Linked DNA regions of Homo sapiens: region 1 is linked to region 2. Evidence: fine-mapped expression QTL. A gene starts in region 2. The other region holds a variant in brackets. All regions are shown on one strand. Distances are between the middles of the regions.

The links.
Region 1: its variant is fine-mapped to the expression of PTK7 in whole blood (TOPMed, PIP 0.95).

The regions. Positions count from the first base shown.
Region 1 is chr6:43,139,673-43,142,574 of GRCh38, reverse strand. It overlaps PTK7 (protein tyrosine kinase 7 (inactive)), which reads right to left. Exons shown (of 20, transcript NM_002821.5): 11 at 758-907; 12 at 494-644; 13 at 276-403. Among named protein-coding and RNA genes, the nearest start is that of SRF, 30 kb to the left of the region's middle. The variant T/A (reference allele first, on the strand shown) is at 1,369.
Region 2 is chr6:43,075,162-43,078,063 of GRCh38, reverse strand. PTK7 (protein tyrosine kinase 7 (inactive)) reads right to left here and starts at 1,750. Exons shown (of 20, transcript NM_002821.5): 1 at 1,497-1,750. The coding sequence starts at 1,575. It overlaps KLC4-AS1 (KLC4 antisense RNA 1), which reads left to right and starts at 1,834. Exons shown (of 2, transcript XR_002956347.1): 1 at 1,834-2,369; 2 at 2,797-2,902. RefSeq lists a silencer at 1,663-1,762 and an enhancer at 2,092-2,615.

The DNA of each region.
Region 1 (2,902 bases), 65 kb before region 2:
CAGGAACCTGGGAGGCAGCATTGTAGGAAGAGAACACCCCCCCACTCCCCCACAACACACACACACACACACCGACCGTTGGATGTTAAATAAACGACAGCCCGGCTCTGAGCAAGGACTCTAAGACTGTGCAGCAGCATGGTGAGACGGCCGAATCCCCACCGCTGCCACAAAAATGGCTTCTGTGCCATGTTCTGTACACAGGGGCTGAGTACAAGGTGACAAACGTCTGGGCCCACCACTTCCTGTGCAGCATAACCCTCCCCAGCCCATACCCACGACATAGAGGGGGGCCTCCGTGTGCTTGATGTTGCAGCTGTTGCCTGCAATGCAGGTGTAGCGGCCTGAGTCCTCAGGGGCCACGTCATGGATCACCAGGGAGCCATTCTGGAAGATGTGCATCCTGTCGGGGGAGAAGCCATAGTGCTGGCCAGCTCGCAGGGAGGGGGGCTGCAGGAGAGGAGGGACGGGTGTGGGAGAGAGGTGGCCCTACCTGGGTCCCAGCTTGGTGGGGTCCAGGATGCGGTCCTTGCCTTTCCACTGAATCAGCGGCTTGGGGTCCCCCTGGGCCTCGCACTGCAGTAGGGCTGTGTGGCCCTGGTACACAGTCGTACGCTCTGGTTCCACTTTGAAGGTGATAAAAACTGGAAGAAAAGAGACCAGCGAGGCGCAGGGAGGGGTAAGCCAAGGGGCTGGCAGGGTACACGGTGCTACCCCAGAGGGCCCTCCCAGCCCCAGGGCCCTGCCACGGTCGCACCTGCCACAGTGAGCTGGACATGGGCACGAATCTGGCCCTGCGGCCCGTTGGAGGCAATGCAAGTGTAGTTGCCAGCGTCATCTCGAGTCACCCGGGCAAAATGCAGGGTCCCAGCGTTGTCTGTCACCCACTCTGGGAGGCTGCTCCCATCTGCAGGGGTAACAAAGGGAAATTATGGGAAGGATCAGGGTTACACAGACAGCTGGCAATGCCTTCAGTCCCTCACCTCTACTCAAAAACACACCATCGCTCCTGACCACCCACAGGCAAAGTCCAAACTCCTGAGCCAAGTGTTAGAAGCCCCTCCGTTATTTACCCCTCTTCCAATTCTTCAGTCTCACCTCTTCCTCCTACTGCCCTGTGTGACATTCCACGTCTGCCAAACCGGACTCTGTTTGGGCCCAGATCGGCCCTGTTCCTACTCCGCTGCCCATCACTTCTCCCTCCTAGAGCCCATTCCCGCTCTTTACCATCCCAGGCTGTAGATCCATTTTAAGCCTCACCTCTCCCAGAAAGTTCCCCCAGACCTGAGCAGAGGGAGCCTACTTCCTCCTCAGAATCTACAACTGTACTCTCTCACTCTAGGTGGAAATGTCAAAATTGGTCCAACC[T/A]TTTAAAAAATAATTTGGCAACTCACATCAAGGGCTATAAAAATGTTCATACCCCCTTTCGTGCATAATTATCCCAATTCTGGGAATCTTTCCCAAAGGAAATAAACCTAAATCCAGAAAAAAACTTTGGCTTAAAGATGTTTATTGCAGCAATGAAAAAAAAGGGGGTGGGTGGGTGGCTGGTTAACAACCCAAATCTCCAACATTTAAGGAACAGTTAAGTAAATTACAGTGAATCCAATTGTTGAAATATTATTAGGATCATCAAAACAAATATTCATGAAGAGTGTATAAAGATGTGGGGAAATGCTTGACAATGGTAAGTAAAAAAGGGTATAAAATTACACCGTTACAAAAAAAATAAAAATAAATAATTTTAAAAAATATTTTTAAAAACTACATAGTTATCTGTATTGTCTAATTCTACAATAAGCATGTCTACAGGCATGCACCACCATGCCTGGCTAATTTTTAAATTTTTTGTACAGACAGGGTCTCCCTGTATTGCCCAGGTTGGTCTTGAACTCCTGGGCTCAAGCGATCCTCCCACCTCGGCCTCCCAAAGTGCTGGGATTACAGGCATGAGCTACCACACTCAGCCAATCATGTAAATTTAATAACTGAAACTATATATACAATAAAACTGCTAGGTAAAAAAAGAAAAACATATGCACAGAAAAAGAAGACATACACCCAAAGATGATAAACGGCAGGACTGTACATTTTTTCTCCCAATATTTTTTTTTTTTTTTTTGAGATGGAGTCTCGCTCTGCCACCCAGGCTGAAGTGCAGTGGCACAATCTCGGCTCACTGCCACCTCCGCCTCCTGGGTTCAAACAATTCTCCTACCTCAGCCTCCCGAGTAGCTGGCACTACAGATGCGTGCCGCCACCCCTGGCTAATTTTTTGTATTTTCAGTAGAGACGAGGTTTCACTACTCTATGTTAGCCAGGATGGTCTCTATCTCATGACCTCGTGATCCACCCACCTCAGCTTCCCACAGTGCTGGGATTACAGGCGTGAGCCACCACGCCCGGCCTCTTCCAGTATTTTGTAAAGGAGCCCATGTAACTTTTGTTTCTTTTTTCTTTTGAGTCAGAGTCTCACTCTGTCAGCCAGACTCTGGTGCAATGGCATGATCTCGGCCCACTGCAGCCTCCACCTCCTGGGTTCAAGCGATTCTCCTGCTTCAGCCTCCTAAGCAGCTGGGATTGCAAGCATGTGCCACCACGCCTGGCTAACTTTTGCATTTTTAGTAGAGATGGGGTTTCACCATGTTGGCCAGGCTGGTCTCAAACTCCTGGCCTCAAGTGACCCACCCATCTCGGCTTCCCAAAGTGTTGGGATTACAGGCGTGAGCCACTATGCACGGCCTCCATGTAATTTTTATGTTGGAAAAGATAAACTATTTTGGAAAAGGGGAAGAGAGGACTTTACAGCACTGTCTGAACCAATCCAATCACTTGTTGCCTTGAGTTGTCTTCCATGTTGTCCAAGGCTATAATCTGACCTCTTCTGTGTCTGGCTTTTTCC
Region 2 (2,902 bases):
AGGACAGCCAGGGGGCCTGTGAGCTTGGGCTGCTCGCCCAGATGGCTGGGCCCCCATCCTGGCTGTGCAAAAAAACTTCCATACTTCCTCTGGGAGCAGATGTGGATTCTGCCACGAGCAATAACCACCACACACATCACAAGAAAAACGGGGCAACTCCAGAAACACCTCCTCCAAATCCCTGGAGATTGGTCTCTTTCCTGGGTTACATTTACCTCTCCTTTTACAACTGGGGGCAGGGGAGATGTTGATTCCACCAGCACCAAAACCCCTCCACAGCTGGCAGGCCAGAAAGATATTAGAAAGGCAATTCCTTACCCATGCCCTTCCCATTGCCACCTTCAAAGGAGATGGAAGGTGATCACCTAGGACAGGTCTCCTCGACAGAGCTCCCCAAGAGAAAGCTGCTTCGAGGACCACCAAGGAGTGTTGTGGAGGGTCGGGGGCTTTATTTCCAGTCCGGGCTATTTGGGATGTGCGGGTGGCTTGGTGCTTTCCTGTAAGGCACTTCAACACCTCAGTGATGACTCTTAGGTGTGACCAAGCCAGGAAATAAAAGCTGCGGGAGTTGGGGGGGCGGTGCTGTCTGCCCTGGTGATGAGGGCCACACCCTCGTTAAAATGCTAAGGCCCCCCCCCAAGAAAAGCCAGAATGAGCTCTTTTTGCCTTTCTTCCCTTAGAAATACTTCCTTTCCTCTGTGAGGACAGTCAGGATGGAAATCCAGGAAGGAGCAGAACAAACCCCGTCCGCACCTTTGCAGCCAGGCCATGCCCGATTTTGGCAGCGGCCTTCACACATTAGTCACCGCGACAGCCTGGGACCCTCGGATCCCCGGATTCGGCCCTGGCACGGAGTGGGCGCAGGGTTCCAGACCAGTAGCTAGAGGCCATGGATGGGGGCGGCCCCTAACTCTTCCCTTCTTCCGCCCTCACCCGCAGGGCCATCTGGGGTCTCAGCTTTGCCCAGGAACTCGGAGGAGGGAAGCCGGGAACGTCGGGTCGGCGTAGGTAACAAAGCTCCGCGCTTTGCGCGCCGCAGGTCTGTCCGGCATCGGGCCCCAAACCAGCAACTCTTACCTGGGCCGACCCTGCCGGGTGGGGTGGGGAATTCCTTTTTCTCCATCGCGCTCCCCACGGTGGGTGCGGATGGTCTTTTCTCCCCCGACAAGAAACTCCCCATCTGGGCCCGAGAGCCAGCAACTCTCGGCAGTTCTCGAGCAAACTCTCGGCTCAGACCAGAAAAACTCAGGGAGGCTGGAAATGCGTCCCCGCGGCGCGAGTGGGAGGGGTACCCTGACCGCGTCCCTGGAGGCTTCGCCAGCCTCCCGACACCCGGGCTCCTTGCGCCCTTCCGCCGCAAGCCTGCACCCCCAGCGAGCCTCTCCACTACTCCAGGGCCGTTCCAGCCGCCCAAACCCACCGCCCCGGGCGCAGCCTTTTGCCCACGGGACTCCCGCGCTTCCCAAGCTCTGTGCCCCCAACTCTCGGGTACTCACCGCCCAGCAGCGGCAGCAGCAGGACGCTGAGCAGAGGCAACCGGCGGGGTCTGGCCGGGGATCCCCGCGCAGCTCCCATCGCGGCGGGCTCAGGAAAAGGAGCTGAGGGCGCACGGCGGGCGCGCAGACTGCGCTCCGCGGCGGGCACAGGAGGCGGAGCGCACCGGAGCGCGGGCGCCGCAGCAGCAGCCGCAGCCGGAGCCCGACCCCGAGGCGTCCCGAGGCGTCCCGAGCCGGAGCCGCGCGCGCCCAGTACCTCCGAGTCCCCGCGCGCCGCCGCCGCCGCCGCCAAGCCCCGCCCCACGACGCCCCCTCCCCTCCGGCCCCCGCACGGCGCCCCGCCCCCTCGACGCCCCCTCCTCGCCGAGGCGGGGAGGAGCTCAGTAGGGGGAGGGGTCTGGAGAGGGATGGAGAATAGAGAGAGCAAGGCTCAGGGAAGTGCAGGGGACCTGAGTATTTGCTGTACCCACCACCGACTCTGCAGGGATCCGGGAGAACCTAAGTGACTTGTGCGATTCCGTGGACCCTGGGGAGAATGGTCCATTCTGGGCATACCTGGAGGCTCTGGCCAACAGTTCCCCCAGAATTCTCCAGGTGGGGGCAGGGGAAGAGGCGGGCCCCGCCAACTCTTCAGCAACCCAAAATCTTAACGGCAGACCCAGAACAGCAGGGTGTCCTTAATGTCCCCAAGTAACCTGAAGATGCTGTGTAGCCCGGAGAGGGGCTGAAGTGTGCATGACTGGGGTCTGGTTTGGCTGTAGACCAATCTGAACCCAAAGGTAGAAACACGCTGGGCTCTGAAAGCCAGGCTGAAGTCTGCTAACTGACAAATTCATCCCAAGTCCATCTCCAGGCAGTCTGGGCTGTGTCAGGGTATGGCCAAGTCTCCAGCTGTGGGGAGGCCCAGCACAACCCTTGTTCCAGGCACCCCCACCCCCAGCGCCACCACCCCCACATTCTTTCTTTGTTGTGAAAGCAGCAAGGGGTGTAGGAGGCGGGTCAGGAGGAGTCAAGCTTTAGAAGATGGGCCCCAGCTGCTGCTCAGGCCTCCAAGATATGCTGAGAGGGGATGGATAGTGCCTTGTCTCCCCTCTGGTTCCGGAGGGCCCCCCAGGCCTGTTTAGACCTCCCTTCCCCCAAGCAGCTGGGAGGAGGAATGGCAGCCACAGAGGGCCTCACAGCCAGGAGAAGTGGCGCCAGGACTCCAGGGTCCTGCCACATGGCCACCACATGTCCCTGACAACCCAGTCCACAGCACCTTCTCCTTGGGTTGTGAGCCTCCTTCTTCCCCATCCCCCAGATGCCTTCCTACAGGCCCTGCTGGAGATGATACAAACAACGGGAGGAAGAGAGGAGAGATCCAAGAATCAACACTCCTCCTGCTGCTCCATCCATCACTGCCCCTC